2 separate regions of the Homo sapiens genome follow, and region 2 is linked to region 1. Evidence: fine-mapped expression QTL. Tissue or cell type: prefrontal cortex. Region 1 holds a variant in brackets; the other region holds the start of a gene. All regions are shown on one strand. Distances are between the middles of the regions.

Region 1 (8,000 bases):
CCATCTTCTGACAAACCCAACTACTCCTCAAACTGGGTTGGTCCCTAGTCTGAGCCATCCTCTGGTCTCTCAGCACCTTCTTAGTTTGTGGGGGGACATTACAGTCCCAAGTTTTTCTCATAATATCATTCCTCAGGAAGGCCAGGCATAGTGGCTCACGCCTATAATCCCAGCACTTTGGGAGGCCGAGGGGGGTGCATCACGAGGTCAGGAGTTCAAGAGCAGCCTGGCCAACCTAATGAAACCCCGTCTCTACTAAAAATACAAAAAAAAAATTAGCCGGGCATGGTGCCACGTGCCTGCAGTCCCAGCTACTAAGGAGGTTGAGGCAGAGAATCACTTGAACCCAGGAGGCGGAGGTTGCAGTGAGCTGAGATCGCGCCACTGTACTCCAGCCTGGGCGACAGAAGGAAGCAGCTGCGGTCACTCTATGGGAAAGGTGAATGGAAACACTTAAACTCATGTCAAGGCCGACTTACTAGTATTTCCACATCAGTCAAGTAAAATGCAACCCCACAACAGGCTGAGACTGGGAGTCTGTCATGCCAGGTTCCCACGGCCACGGAGAGACAGGCTGTTCTGCCTCGCAGAGCTCTTGAGAGCAGAAGGCATTATCACAGATCAAAATGAGTTTTACCCAAGAACCCGCATCTTGTCATGAACGCACCAGAAAGCATGGCCCTGGCGACGTCAGCATGCTGGCAGGATGCTTCCATCTGTTCACAAAGGCAGCACAGATTCCTGAAGAGCCACGATCCCACAGCATGCATGTCGGGATGGCTGGAGACACACACAGAGGCAGACGTAAGGCTCAACTAAATCCCATCATCAGGGGATTGAGTTGAGCCATATGTCCCAATTTTTTTTTTGAGACAGTTTTTTGCTGTCACTGAGGCTGGAGTGCAGTGGCGCAATCAGTCACTGCACCCTCGACCTCCCAGGCTCAAGCAATCCTTCCACCTCAGCCTCCTGAGTAGTTGGGACAACAGGCGCATACCACCACGCCCAGCTGGAGGTCTTACTACTTTGCCCAGGCTGGACTCAAACTCCCGGGCTCAAAACAATCTCCCACCTTGCCCTCCCAAAGTGCTGGGATGACTGGTGTGGCACTGTGCCCAGTCTCAAGTTATTTTCTAATTTCCCTTGTGACTTCTTTGACTCATTATGTTAACTTTCAAATATTGTGGATTTTCCCAATTCCCTTCTGTTGTTTATTCTAATTAAATTCATTTGTGGTTAGAGAACATATTTTGAATGATTTCAGCCCTTCTAAATTTATTCCTCTTTGTTTTATGGCCTGAACCTTTTTTTTTTCTCTTGAAACAGTTTTGCTCTTGTCATCCAGGCTGGAGTGCAATGGCACAATCTCAGCTCACTACAACCTCCGCCTCCCAAGTTCAAGCGATTCTCCTGCCTCAGCCTCCACAACGGCTGGGATTACAGGCACCTGCCACCTTGCCCAGCTAATTTTTGTAATTTTAGTAGAGACAGGGTTTCACCACGTTGGACAGGCTGGTCTTGAACTCCTGACCTCAGGTGATCTGCCCGCCTCAGCCTCCCAAAGTGCTGGGATTACAGGTGTGAGCCACCGCACCTGGCCTTGGCCTGAACCTTATGCTGTATCCTGGGGACTGTTCCATTTGGACTTACGAATACACACTCTGCTACTACTGGGTAGAGTGCTCCACAGTCAGTCAGGTCAGCTGGTTTGCAGCATTCAACTTCTATATCATTCTTTTTTTTTTTTTTTTTTTTAATTGATCATTCTTGGGTGTTTCTCGCAGAGGGGGATTTGGCAGGGTCATAGGACAATGGTGGAGGGAAGGTCAGCAGATAAACAAGTGAACAAAGGTCTCTGGTTTTCCTAGGCAGAGGACCCTGAGGCCTTCTGCAGTGTTTGTGTCCCTGGGTACTTGAGATTAGGGAGTGGTGATGACTCTTAACGAGCATGCTGCCTTCAAGCATCTGTTTAACAAAGCATATCTTGCACCGCCCTTAATCCATTTAACCCTGAGTGGACACAGCACATGTTTCAGAGAGCACAGGGTTGGGGGCAAGGTCACAGATCAACAGGATCCCAAGGCAGAAGAATTTCTCTTAGTACAGAACAAAATGAAAAGTCTCCCGTGTCTACTTCTTTCTACACAGACACAGCAACCATCTGATTTCGCAATCTTTTCCCCACCCTTCCCCCCTTTGTATTCCATAAAACCGCCATTGTCATCATGGCCCGTTCTCAATGAGCTGTTGGGTACACCTCCCAGACGGGGTGGTGGCCGGGTAGAGGGGCTCCTCACTTCCCAGTATGGGCGGCCGGGCAGAGGCGCCCCTCACCTCCTGGACAGGGCGGCTGGCCGGGCGGGGGGCTGACTCCCCCACCTCCCTCCCGGACGGGGCGGCTGTTCTATATCATTCTTAATCTAACTTGTTCTACCCATTACTGAAAGGGGAGTATTGAAACCTCTAATGATTATTGCTGAAATGTCTACTTCTCCCTTTAATTCTGGCCATTTTTGCTTCATAGATTTTGGTGCTGAGATAAGATGTGTATATCCTAGGAAGCAGGTTTTTCTTTTTTTTTTTTTTTTTGAGATGAAATTCTGCTCTAGGCCGAGGCGGGAGGATCACAAGATCAGGAGTTCGAGACCAGCCTAGCCAACATGGTGAAACCCCATCTCTACTAAACATACAAAAATTAGCCGGGTGTGGTGGCACGCGCCTGTAGTCCCAGCTACTGAGGAGGCAGGGGCAGAATTGCTTGAATCCGGGAAGCGGAGGTTGCAGCGAGCCCAGATCTCACCACTGCACTCCAGCCTGGCGACATAGCAGGTCTCTGTCTCAAAAAGAAAAAAAAAGGCCGCGCGAGGTGGCTCATGCCTGTAATCCCAGCACTTTGGGAGGCCGAGGCAGGGGAATCACCTGAGGTTAGGAGTTTGACACCAGCCTGGCTAACATGGCGAAACCACATCTCTACTAAAAATAACAAAAATTGCCAGGCACAGTGGTTCATGCCTGTAATCCCAGCGCTTTGGGAGGCAGAGGCGGGCAGATCCTGAAGTCAGGA[G/A]ATGGAGCCCATCCTGGCTAACATGGTGAAACCCAGTCTCTACTAAAAATACAAAAATTAGCCAGGCGTGGTGGCGGACGCCTGTAGTCCCAGCTACTCGGGAAGCTGAGGCAGGAGAATGGCGTGAACCCGGGAGGTGGAGCCTGCAGTGAGCCGACATCACGTCACTGCACTCCAGCCTGGGTGACAGAACGAGACTCTGTCCCTAAAAAAAATAAATACATAACAAAAATTAGCTGCGTGTGGTGGCGGGCGCCTGTAATCCCAGCGACTTGGGAGGCTGAGGCAGGAGAATTGCTTGAACCCTGGAGGTGGAGGTTGTAGTGAGCTGAAATCGTGCCACTGCACTCCCACCTGGGCCACAGAGCGAGACTCCGTCTCAAAAAAAAAACAGACAAAAAGCAAACAAAACCAAAACACCATAAACGTTCTCTTGAAATAATAAAGCAATAGTTCCTCCAGGTCTAGTCTAGTATAAATATGCAATGCAATCTAGTCTAGTACAAATTATATGTCAAAGCCAGAAATCAAACCCGTCTGATTCTGGGCTTTGAAATATAATTTATACTAGACTAGACTGCAAAAACAGTAACACTGAATCATCATTAGCACGCTACCTTTCCAGCAGCTCTTGCAGGCTCACAATGCCTTGTACGTGAAGATGCCACACCGCTTCAAGCAACAAAGAACTCTGAAAAACAAAACAAAACAAACAAAAACAAAAACAAAAAAACCCCCAGCATTCTGAGTCCTTTATGAATGCATTTTCCTACAAAATGTTCAACTTAGGTTCTTAACCATGCCGTATTGAAAATTAACCTCAAGCAAAAACTTAGAGCCTGAAACACATCTTTTTTTACAAAGCTGTACTGGTTTTCAAACTCCCTGGCCTTTGGGCACCCACACACCGTTGCCCAACACTTGCTTCTCTTCCTTCTCTCTTCCTACGCACTGTAGCCTACTTCTAACCCTTTCTCCACACTACAGCCAACACAGTATTACACACACTGACATGACAGTCTCTCCTTCAGAAGCCTTCACTGGCTCCTCGAAGCTGCCAGGACAAAGGTCAGGCTTCAGTGTGCCCTGTGCATGTCCCTTGTCTTTCTCACTCAACCCTCTCCCATTTGATAAAACAGGATCTGCTTTAGCCACTCACTGTGAACACTGTGCCTGTCACACTGCCCTGATCTCCCTGCAGCCTCCCCTTCTCATCCCCCTAACTCACACTCTATTTTTTTTTTTTTGAGACAGAGTCGCGCTCTGTCACCCAGGCTGGAGTGCAGTGGCGCCATCTCGGGTCACTGTAAGCTCTGCCTCCCGGGTTCACGCCATTCTCCTGCCTCAGCCTCCTGAGTAGCTGGGACTACAGGTGCCTGCCACCACACCCGGCTAATTTTTTCTATTTTTTAGTAGAGACGGGGTTTCACCGTGTTAGCCAGGATGGGCTCGATCTCCTGACCTCATGATCCACCTGCCTCGGCCTCCCAAAGTGCTGGGATTACAGGTGTGAGCCACTGGGCCCGGCCCCTAACTCGCACTCTTCACAGTCCGTGCAGGAAGGCTTTCCTAACTCTCCAATCTGATATGCATGTCCAACATCTTCTTCGCAAATCTGTGAGCACATGAATCATCGCACTTCTTGTGGATTTAGTGGCTTGTTTCCCAAGCTACGTGATAATGAGGGCAGGGACCAAAGCAATAACTGAAAAATCTAATGAATTCTATAATGTATGCTGGATAAAAGAATGGGAAAGGCCGGACGCAGTGGCTCACACCTGTAATCCCAGCACTTGGGAGGCCAAGATGGGCAGATCACCTGAGGTCAGGAATTGAAGACCAGCCTGGCCAACATGGTGAAACCTCATCTCTACTAAAGATACAAAAATTGGGCAGGGCGCGGTGACTCACACCTGTAATCCCGGCACTTTGGGAGGCCGAGGTGGGCAGATCATCTGAGGTCAGGAGTTTGAGACCAGCCTGACCAACATGGAGAAACCCCGTCTCTACTAAAAATACAAAAAAAATTAGCCAGGCATGGTGGCGCATGCCTGTAATCCCAGCTACTCGGGAGGCTGAGGCGGGAGAATGGCGTGAACCCGGGAGGCGGACGTTGCGATAAGCCAAGATAGCACCATTGCACTCCAGCCTGGGCAACAAGAGCAAAACTCCATCTCAAAAAAAAAAAAAGATACAAAAATTAACTGGGCATGGTGGCACGCGCCTGTAATCCCAGCTACTAAGGTGGCTGAGGCAGGACAATCGCTTGAACCTGGGAGGCAGACGTTGCAGTGAGCCAAGATTGCGCCACTGCACTCCAGCCTGGGCGGCAGAGCAATATTCTGTCTCAAAAATAAAAATAAATGCCAGGCGCGGTGGCTCACACTTGTAATCCCAGCACTTTGGGAGGCCGAGGTGGGCAGATCACGAGGTCAGGAGATCGAGACCATCCTGGCTAACACGGTGAAACCCCGTCTCTGCTAAAAAATACAAAAAATTAGCTGGGCGTGGTGGCAGTCACCTGTAGTCCCAGCTACTCGGGAGGCTGAGGCAGGAGAATGGCGTGAACCTGGGAGGTGGGGCTTGCAGTGAGCCAAGATCACGCCACTGCACTCCAGCCTGTGCGACAGAGCGAGACTTCGTCTCAAAAAAAAAAAAAAAAGACCAGCCTGGGCAACAAGGCGAGACCCTGTCTCTGGAAAAAAAAATTACATACATTTTTTTTTAATAGTTTACTATACTACCCTGGAAAATTCTCCATACTAATATACCCAAGGCTAAACGTGTTTTTCAATATATTCTAGTCTAATAAATATTACTAATGATAGGTGAATAGGGACAAAAAATGGCAATTGAAGGTACTTCTTTCCAATCCACAGATGATTTCTAAACCCTTTTTCATCCACTCTCTGTAATTAATGAGAAGCTTGGAGAATTCCCAAGAAAACCCAGGTACTCTGTTGCCTCCATCCAGATCAACAGAACATTGCCTGGAACACTGGAGAGTCAGATTTGCAATCTCAAATTTACCTGTATTTTCCATAATTCTTGACAGAAGGAAAGACGGGAGAACATACTGTGTGCCAATAAATACTGAGCAAACTCTAACAGGGAAGACAGCTTCTTCTGAAAAGAGAGATTACATTTTTTAAAAAACAAATTACCTGAAACAATACTAAAGCTATGTCCTATTTTCCCAACCAGCTTAAAAGTAACAACGGGCAGGTTTCCTCATCTTTGCTGGTGTCTTACTCTCTGCTCCACAGTCAGCAGCACAGGGTGACTGGTCTCCGCTGGAGCCGTGCAGATCTGTCCCACGCTAGAGGCAACCATCCCGGCTGAGAGAATACCCACGGGAACCCCCAGCCTTGAGGCTTGATCCTGCAAAGCAGAGCCTTAAACACAAAACAAAACCATAGCTTTCTCTTAACACATGAGACAAAATCTAAAACCAAAGACTTGCTGTTTAAAATGCCTTATTTTAAGATGCAGCACAAAAAAAATTGCCTTTTAAACGGGGAGAATAGATGCAAAGGGAAAAACATGAGATAAAAATGAGAATTTGATGATCCAAGCAGCTCACAATAAAACTGGTGGCAACACCTGAACCCAGAGTTATACATTGGTATTTGTTACGTTTCCCATGACACAAAAGGAGCAAGATAAAGAAATATATTCTGACCAAGAACTTTATCATCTTTTTACAAAGGAGCACAATAAATTGAGAACTGCAGCAGGCTCTTTCAATTACATTGTTTTTCTAATTACTTCAGAGATAAGCCTGCCCCTGTTGACTCACATTGATGGTTGTGATAAAATTAGGCAGGGATTTCCCAACATTCTGCCATGCACCTGGTGGGCAGGTGCAGTCACAGCTGTGCTCAGTCCGCAGGCCACCAAGTGGAACCTCACTAACAGCCTGCAGGCAGCCACCATTCTCCTGAGCAACCAGCCACTGGTCTGCATTCAATAAAGTGAGAAACGGTGGGCAACCTGGAAGCAGGCAATGCCAAGAAATCATTTTCTAATTTATTTGTCTTCCAAAATTAATTTTTTTTTGTTTTATTTTTTTGCAATGGTGTCTTACACTGCCGCCTGGACTGAAGTGCAACGGCGCCATCTCAGCTCACTGCAACCTCCGCCTCTCAGGTTCAAGCGATTCTCCTGCCTCAGCCTCCCAAGTAGCTGGGATTACAGGCACGCGTCACTACGCCCAGTTAATTTTTTGTATTTTTAGTAGAGATGGGGTTTCACTATGTTGGCTAGGCTCGTCTCCAATTCCCAACCTCATTAATCCGCCCGCCTCGGCCTCCCATACTGCTGGGATTACAGGTGTGAGCCACCACGTGAGCCAAAATTAATTGTTTAAAGAAACCGGGCCGGGCACGGTGGCTCACGCCTGTAATCCCAGCACTTTGGGAGGCCGAGGCGGGCGGATTACAAGGTCAGGAGATCGAGACCATCCTGGCTAACACGGTGAAACCCTGTCTCTACTAAAGACACAAAAACAAAATTAGCCAGGTTTGGTGACGGGAGCCTGTAGTCCCAGCTACTCAGGAGGCTGAGGCGAAGAATGGCGTGAACCCAGGAGGCGGAGTTTGCAGTGAGCCGAGATCACGCCACTACACTGCAGTCTGGGCGACAGAGCCAGACTTCATCTCAAAAAAACAAAACAAAAAAAAACTGGAGGCCAGGCTCAGTGGGTCCCTCCTGTAATCCCAGCACTTTGGGAGGCCGAGGCGGGTGGATCACCTGAGGTCGGGAGTTTGAGACCAGCCTGACCAACATGGTGAAACCCTATCTCTACTAAAAATACAAAATTAGCCAGGCGTGGTGGTGCATGCCTGTAATACCAGCTACTCAGGAGGCTGAGGCAGGAGAATCACTTTAACTAGGGAGGCAGAGGTTGCGGTGAGTCGAGATCACACCATTGCAC
Region 2 (8,514 bases), 19 kb after region 1:
TCGTCTTCCAGTGTGGTCCAGGGAAGCCAAAAGATTGGACACCCCTGCTCTAAAGCTTTCCAAGCTGACTTAATGACTGACCTACATCAATCTCTACAGTGCTTCTCGTTGAGTCCCTTTTTCTGTTTGTTTGTTTTTTGAGACAGAGTCTCACTGTGTCACCAGGCTGGAGTGCAGTGGTGTGATCTCGGCTCACTGCAACCTCCGCCTCCTGGATTCAGGCGATTGTCCTGCCTCACCCTCCTGAGTAGCTGGGACTACAGGCATGTGCCACCATGCCCAGCTAATTTTTGTATTTTTATTTTTATTTTTTATTTATTTATTTTTTGAGACAGAGTCTCGCTCTGTCGCCCAGGCTGCAATGCAGTGGCGCAATCTTGGCTCACTGCAAGCTCCACCTCCCAGGTTCACGGCATTCTCCTGCCTCAGCCTCCCGAGTAGCTGGGACTACAGGCACCCCCCCACCACGCCCGGCTAATTTTTTTGTATTTTTAGTAGAGACAGGGTTTCACCGTGCTAGCCAGGATGGTCTCGATCTCCTGACCTCGTGATCTGCCCGCCTCAGCCTCCCAAAGTGCTGGGATTACAGGCGTGAGCCACTGTGCCTGGCCTTTTGTATTTTTAGTAGAGATGGGGTTTCACCGTGTTGGCCAGGATGGCCTTGATCTCCTGACCTTGTGATCTGCCTGCCTCGGCCTCCCAAAGTGCTGGGATTACAGGTGTGAGCCACCATGCCCGGCCATGTTTTATTTCTTTTTATTTTTTTTGAGATGGAGTCTTGCTCTGTTTCCCAGGCTGGAGTGCAGTGGTGCGATCTCGGCTCACTGCGACCTCCGCCTCCTGGGTTCAAGCAATTCTTCTGCCTCAGCCTCCCGAGTAGCTGGGATTATAGGCATGTGCCACCACGCCCTGCTAATTTTTTTTTTTTTAATTATTTTTCTAGTAGAGATGGGGTTTCACCATATTGGCCAGGCTGGTCTGGAACTCCTGACCTCGTGATCTGCCCCCTTGGCCTCCCAAAGTGCTGGGATTACAGGCTTGAGCCACCGTGCCCAGCCCTAACTTTTAAAATTTTTTACTAAAATCTCAGTGTTCTAAGTCCTGCTGGTGAGTCCATAGGGATCCCAGGTAGGATGGTGGATGCCAGTTCAGAGAGGGTCACTGTACCCCACTCACGTGACCTCAAGGGTCACTGTTCAGCCAGGTGAGTCAGCACTAGGTCCTTGCCAGGATGCAGCAGTGGCTGGAGGACTGAGCTCACAAATTACACCCTAAAACCTTGTGGTCGGTAAGGGACACGTGAGGCCCTTTGAGGAAGAGAGAAGGTCCCCTTGTGCCCCAGCCAGCTTCCCATTAGGGTAATTACCATCTTCTGCTCAAATGTCCCCGGCCAGTGCTGCACTGTGGCAGTGATGAGGCTGCACGTCCAAAGAGTGCTCTGGGGTGGTGGCCAGTCGTGGTGAGAGCAATGTCCCCCACCTTGACTTCTGGCAAGAAGCAGTGAGACCTACTCAGTGGGGTGTTGCAAATGGAAGTCTTTTTTTTTTTCTTTTTTTATTTTTGAGATGGAGTCTCGCTCTGTCGCCCAGGCTGGAGTGCAGTGGCGCGATCTCGGCTCACTGCAAGCTCCGCCTCCTGGGTTCACGCCATTCTCCTGCTTTAGCCTCCCCAGTATCTGGAACTACAGGCACCCGACACCACTCCTGGCTAATTTTTTGTGTTTTTTAGTAGAGACGGGTTTCACCATGTTAGCCAGGATAGTCTCAATCTCCTGACCTCTTGATCCATCCGCCTCGGCCTCCCAAAGTGCTGGGATTACAGGAGTGAGCCACCGCGCTCGGCCACAAATGGAAGTCTTTATCCCCGTGCATTCTGAAGGGAGAAACCACCCTGTGTGTGGGACCAAGGATCAGCCTCAGACATCAGCAGAGAACAATTCCCCATCATCACACACCTGGCAGTGTGTGGGCCAGGGACTTTGGTTACCACGAATGTAGAGCGTGCTGCTCCTGTGGAATAAGATGCCTCATGGAAGGTTTTCTGCTGTTGCTCTTCTAAGCCAGAACTTGAAATTCCTAACTTACCCATCGTTGGTACCCATGCTGCGGGTGGCAGGGACAAATCAGGAGGGGAGATCTGCTTGAGTGCCAGGTTTGTGGTACATGGTATTCAGGGCATGGCACCCCATCCCCACCCCGCTCATCTCCAATTTTCCTTCTGCAAAACCCCACTGCGCCTATTAGTCTTTATGCATCTATTTACTAGAGACAGGGTCTCACCGTCACCCAGGCTGGAGTGCAGTGGTGCAATCACAGCGCACTGCAACCTCGACCTCCCAGGCTCAAGTGGTCCTCCTGCCTTACCCTCCCAAGTAGCTGGGACCACCGGCACACACCTCCACACCTGGCTAATGTTTTTAAAGTTTTGTAGCGATAGGGTCTCATGTTGCCCTGGCAGGTCTCGAACTCCTGGGTTCAAGCCATCGGGTTGCCTCGGCCTCCCAAAGTGCTGGGATTACAGGCATGAGCCACCGTGCCCAGCCCACTCCTGTTACTTTTGGTTGTGTTTTAGCTTGGGGAACCAACAAAAGATGTGAATGTTGCCCCGCTGTTGATTATAAAAACTTTAGGCATGGCTGGGCACAGTGGCTCATGCCTGTAATCCCAGCACTTTGAGAGGCCGAGGCGGGCGGATCATGAGGTCAGGAGATTGAGACCATCCTAGCTAATACAGTGAAACCCCGTCTCTACTAAAAAAATACAAAAAATTAGCTGGGCGTGGTGGCAGGCGCCTGTAGTCTCAGCTACTCAGGAGGCTGAGGCAGGAGAATGGCGTAAACCTGGGAGGGGAGCTTGCAGTGAGCAGAGATCGCGTCACTGCACTCTAGCCTGGGCAACAGAGCGCGACTCTGCCTCAAAACAAACAAACAAACAAACTTTAGGCACAATTCGTCATCATCAGCCTCCTTTCTGCTTACAGATGAAAAGTCCAGCTGGACGGGACGACATGGCTCATGCCTGCAACCCCAGCACCCTGGGAGGCTGAGGCAGGGGGATCACCTGAGGTCAGGATTTCGAGACCGGCCTGGCCGACATGGCGAAACCACCCAAAAAATTACCCGGGTGTGGTGGTGGGCGCCTGTAGTTCCAGCTACTTTGAGGCTGAGGCAGGAGAAACGCTTGAATCTGGGAGGTAGAGGTTGCAGTGAGCCAAGGTTGCGCCACTGCACTCCAGCCTGGGCGATAAGAGCAAAACTCCTTCTCAAAAAAAAAAAAAAGAAAGGGAAAGAAAAGAAAAGTCCAGCTGGACTGGGCGCGGTTGCTCACGCTTGTAATCCCAGTACTTTGGGAGACCAAGGTGGCCTGACTGCTTGAGCCCAGGAATTCAAGACCAGCCTGGGCAACATGGTGAGATCCCATCTCCACAAAAAATAAAAACAATCAGCTGGGCGTGGTGGTTCATGCCTTTAGTCCCATCTACTCAGGAAGCTGACGTGGGAGGATCACTTGACCCCAGGAATTTGAGGTTATAGTGAGCTACGATTGTACCATTGCACTTCAGCCTGGGTGAGACCTTGTCTCTAAAAAAAAAAAAAGAAAAAAAAATCATTGTGGAACTTCTTTTCTGGGATGGGATCTCACTGTGTTGTCCAGGCAGGTCCAGAACTCCTGGGAGACCAGCGAACTTTAAGTGCCCCAAGTTTCACCTCGGACCTGCATCAGAATCTCCAGCCCTGGAGCCCAGGAATCTGCATTTCTTGCCCCCGGGTGGTACTGGCAGCACCCAGGCTTGGGACCGTTTATGCCCCAACTGCATTTTCTTGCCCACTTATTCAGATCTGGCACAACTATGAAGAGGCCTCGGGATGAGCCCCAGCCGAGTTCCCCTTGCGTCCCTCAGGCAAACACCCAGTGTCCAGGAGTGACCCGGCCTGAAGACACAAACACGCCCCAAATGCGATGCACGCCATCACTGGCCAACCGTGTGTGTTTATTTTTCACGGACACCCTGGAGACGTCACTGCAGGCACATTCCCTGCTAGGCAGAGGCATTTATTAAGGGCTTCATACCCGAAGGCCGGATGCGGGGAGTCGCCCTCACCCCAGCCACCCTGCGACAACCCCTGGAGGTCACCTTGCCCGGGGCTCGGGGAGGCCACTGCGGGCTTTGTCTGCTCAGCTCCTCCCGGCTCCCTCCCGCGTTCCCAGCGGCAAACCTCCCAGGCCCCCCGCGGTCACCGCAGTGTCCCGGGCTGGATGCCGGCCCGGGCTTTTGTGGGCATCGGCCGTCTGGGTCTGCGGGGGAGCGCCGGGGGTGTCACCGCGTGTCCGAGCGCGCGGGCCCTGGCCCATGTCTGCAGCCCCCAACCCTCCCCCCGGTCCTGCCCAGCACCCCGGAGGGGTTCGCACCCCGGCCTCGGCCCCGCGCCCCCGCGTCCCCAGCCCTGAGCCCCAGCCCCTCCGCACCTACCCGCGCCCCGCCCTGCCCCTCACCCGTCCCCCTCCGGGCCTCTCCCCGCGCGCCCTCCACTCCCCGCCCCGCCCCGCGTCCCTCCCCCTCCGCGCCCCGCCCCCCGCGCCCTCCGCGCCCCGCCCCCGTCGCCGCCCCGCCCCCAACCTGAGGCGCTCGCGCGGGGCGGGGCGGCCAGGCTGACCCTGCGCGGCGGAAGGCGCGGCTGCATGGACGCGGGTCCGGCGCGCGGGAGGCGATGACGGCCCCGCCATGGCCCGGGCGGGCAGCTGCGGCGGCGCCGCGGCGGGCGCAGGGCGGCCGGAGCCCTGGGAGCTGTCCCTGGAGGAGGTGCTGAAGGCCTACGAGCAGCCGCTCAACGAGGAGCAGGCGTGGGCCGTGTGCTTCCAGGGCTGCCGCGGGCTGCGGGGCTCGCCGGGCCGGCGCCTGCGGGATACCGGGGACCTCCTGCTGCGCGGGGACGGCTCGGTCGGGGCGCGGGAGCCCGAGGCCGCGGGTGAGGCCGGGGGCGGGGCAGCCGGCGGGGACCGCGGTCTGGGGCGTCCGTCCCGCCCCCTGGGTGGGGGTGGTCCCGGCGGAGAGGCTGCGACCGGTTCTGGAGCGGGAGATCCCCTTCTCTGCGGGACCCGGAGCTCCCTCCCTCCCACTCTCCGTCCCTCTTTCCCTCTCTCTTTCCTCCCTCCTTCTCTCCCTCCTTCCTCTCCCTCCCCGGCCCTGGACGTTCCCCTCCCGGACCCCCCCACCTGACGCCTCTCCCAGCGCGGAGCGGGCTGCTCCCCAGTGGCCTGGCTTCCTCCGGGAGAGGGACTTGGGCCGGTGGCTCAGGGAGCACGGAGCTGGCCTTTGCTGGGGCGACTCCTCCCCTGCCTTCAGCAGGAAAGGAGACAGAAGCGTCCCCTTGGGGCATTTTCTCCTGGGTGGAAGGTGGGGGGCTGCGCCTCACTTGGCGTCTGAACTGACACTAAATTCCTGGGTTTAACTGGGAGAGGAAGGGGTGTGTAAAGTTGGGGGGACAACCTGCTTGGTGTTTCTATTCTTAACCATCAACCAGAACCAACAATTAAGCCCTAGAAAGATACTTGAAGTTAGTGAGAATGGTGAGCTTAAGTGATTATTTACCCTTTACGAAAAAAACCGAAAGTGATTTCTTCCCTGGAGAGCTGGAGTGCTGGCTTGGAGCATGTGATATGACCCCAAAAGCTGGTACCCTGCCGGGGGGCAGAGGCAGGCTGTGTGTTTGCCGCACTCTCTCCAGGCCTGAGAGCTGTGGGTTTGCATGAGCAGGCCTATGTGGAGGACCAGGAAGGGCCAGGGCAAGGCCAGACAGAAGCAAGCTACAGAGCCACGAGGGGTGGGGGCCGTTGTGCCCCACCCAAGGGCCCTTGTTCCTTCACCAGGTCCTGCTCATCCTGGAGCCCCCCCCTCAGCTGCCTCCACACTCCTGCCATTTGCAGTATCCCACACAGGTGACAGCAAGAGCAGGCCCTGAGGTTTTACTCCCTCTGGAGAAACCTGAGGCGCAGGCTTGCGCTGGCACTCAGACAGTGGCAGCGTTCAGATTCACTGTGGCGTCCCTCAGGGCTGTGCCCACTGCCGCCCAGAGGGTGGGGTGAGACGGCAGGTGCATGGGGCCCAGGAGGCTGCATGCTCACAGAGCCTCTGTGAAAGGGTGCCTGGACTTCACCCCATTCCTGGAGATAAGTGCAGAGCAGGAGGAGGCTGTAGGCAGCCTGGTTCGTCTGACCCTCTGACTGTAAAGATGGGGAAACCGAGGCACACAGTGGTAAGTGGTTTGCCGGGTGGTTAGAATCCAGAGCTCCTCATTTGTCCTAGCTGTGCGGGAGCCCAGCCGCCTGCTTCCTGTTGGTGCTGTGCAAGGCGTCCTCAGAGCAGTGATCTGATTCTCTCCACCTCCATCCCTGGGTGGTGTGGCCCCTTCCTGGTCCTCACAGCCCCGGCAGCAGTTCCTGGCTGGGGTTCAAAGTTCAGGTAGGGCACTGTGTTGACCTTAGGGGGTGGTACCCACCTGTGGTCCAGTTCATTTTTTATTTGATAACGATCTTTGTTTTCTGTTCATAACCCTGTCTCATGAAGGCGAATGAGTTTTATGACTTGCTCTCTCTTGAAGGTTTAAGAAAAATCTATTACCCTGAACTTTCTGTGCCATCCTTGTGGTGCTTCTGAGTCAGCTGAGACATCAGGCCAGCTGTCTCCTCAAAGGTGGCTAACCCAGCCTTTCTCTGGGACTTAAGTGATAAGTAAATACATTAAAAGATGCATACTTATTTCTCCCTGTAGATATCAATAGGAAAACATCCAATCTCACTTGTTGGCATTGTAGTCTCAGTTTTTTGCTCCAGTTGAATTTCTCAACCTGTAACCTTGGGTCTTCAGTACCCACCCTCTCACACAAACTGAATATGGGCAGTAGGTGTGTAAAACCACTTTGAAAAAAACCAACAACAAACTAGACCATACTTAGGAGGATGAATAATATTATCTTAGCACACAAGTAGTAATACTTCTCATTTCCAAGCCAAGATTAGGAAAAAAATGACTAGAAGAGACTTCCTAATCTTTACTCTGAAGACTTTGTAACTGCTTAGAATCTTTTTTTTTTTTTTTTTTTGAGAGGGAGTCTCGCTCTGTTGCCCAGGCTGGAGTGCAGCGGCACAATCTCTGCTCACTGCAAGCTCCACCTCCCGGGTTCACGCCATTCTCCTGCCTCAGCCTCCCGAGTAGCTGGGACTACAGGCGCCCGCCACCACGCCCGGCTAATTTTTTGTATTTTTAGTAGAGACGGGGTTTCACCGTGTTAGCCAGGATGGTCTCGATCTCCTGACCTCGTGATCTGCCCACCTCGGCCTTCCAAAGTGCTGGGATTACAGGCGTGAGCCACTGCGCCCAGCTGGGTGGTTTCTCAAATACATCTCAGACGTGGTGCTAATGAGGGTCTGTGTGGTCCATGTGCAAGGTGGGTGGGATGGCCCTTCCTTCCGTCACCTGCCCTCTTCACCCTGATTGGCTACTTTACACGTGACCCTATTTTTTGAATGTTTTTTCTTGTCAACTTTGGATGCTAAACTTTTTTTCTTTCTTTCTTTTTTTTTTTTTTTTATGAGACAGTCTCGCTCTGTCGCCCAGGCTGGAGTGCAGTGGCGCGTTCTCGGCTCACTGCAAGCTTCGCCTACTGGGTTCACGCCATTCTCCTGCCTCAGCGTCCCGAGTAGCTGGGACTACATGCGCCCGCCACCACGCCCGGCTAATTTTTTGTATTTTTAGTAGAGACTGGGTTTCACTGTGTTAGCCAGAATGGTCTCGATCTCCTGACCTCATGATCCGCCCACCTCGGCCTCCCAAAGTGCTGGGATTACAGGCGTAAGCCACCACGCCTGGCCTGGATGCTAAACTTTTTCACAGGCAGGCCCCGCTCTTTACGCTAGGATGCCCCACGTTGCTGGTCCTCCAGGTATCCCCCGCCCTTTCTCCTGCCCCTCCCCCTTCTGCCCGGCTCTCAGGCCATCTGCCTCTAAGGCACCCTTAGAGCACTGGCTCTGGGGTTCTGCTGTTTCGCAGCCCCGCGCACTCCCAGATGTCTAAGCCTTCCCAACCTGTTCATCTCGCGGCCTGTGTTCTAAACAGAAACATCCATAGTGATCTAGGCAGCACGGGGCACCGTGTCCACGTCCAGAGCTCTGCAGAGGGCGAAGCTCTTCCCTCCTCTGGTTCCCTCCATCCCGCGCCGTGCTGATGAGCAGGCCCCAGCTTCTTGCTCCCATTCCTCCTCAAGGCGGAGTGATGGCAGCGCGTGCCCGCGTGAGGCAAGAGAGGGGCTCTGGGCCCAGGAAGCACCCCATGGTTACGGCCCATGTGAAGGGGCATCCTTTTCACCCACGGAAGCCCGTTTGTGTGTCTGTGCTGGAGTCCACCTTTGCCGAGGAGCACCGTGGCCTCGAGCCCGCAGCCAGCCTGCCTGTTCTGCCGCTGGATCTGGGCTGGCTGGGCCTCCTCAGTGGCCAGGACTGTCTGGTGAGCTTGCCTTTA

The links.
Region 2: it holds the start of SPIRE2, and the variant in region 1 is fine-mapped to the expression of SPIRE2 in prefrontal cortex (GTEx, PIP 0.91).

Annotation. Positions count from the first base shown.
Region 1 is chr16:89,804,613-89,812,612 of GRCh38, forward strand. FANCA (FA complementation group A) reads right to left here. Exons shown (of 43, transcript NM_000135.4): 4 at 6,317-6,459; 5 at 6,095-6,190; 6 at 3,682-3,755; 7 at 668-780. Among named protein-coding and RNA genes, the nearest start is that of FANCA, 8.0 kb to the right of the region's middle. RefSeq lists an enhancer at 1,932-2,454. The variant G/A (reference allele first, on the strand shown) is at 3,065.
Region 2 is chr16:89,823,829-89,832,342 of GRCh38, forward strand. SPIRE2 (spire type actin nucleation factor 2) reads left to right here and starts at 4,647. Exons shown (of 15, transcript NM_032451.2): 1 at 4,647-4,966. The coding sequence starts at 4,723. RefSeq lists a silencer at 4,701-4,790.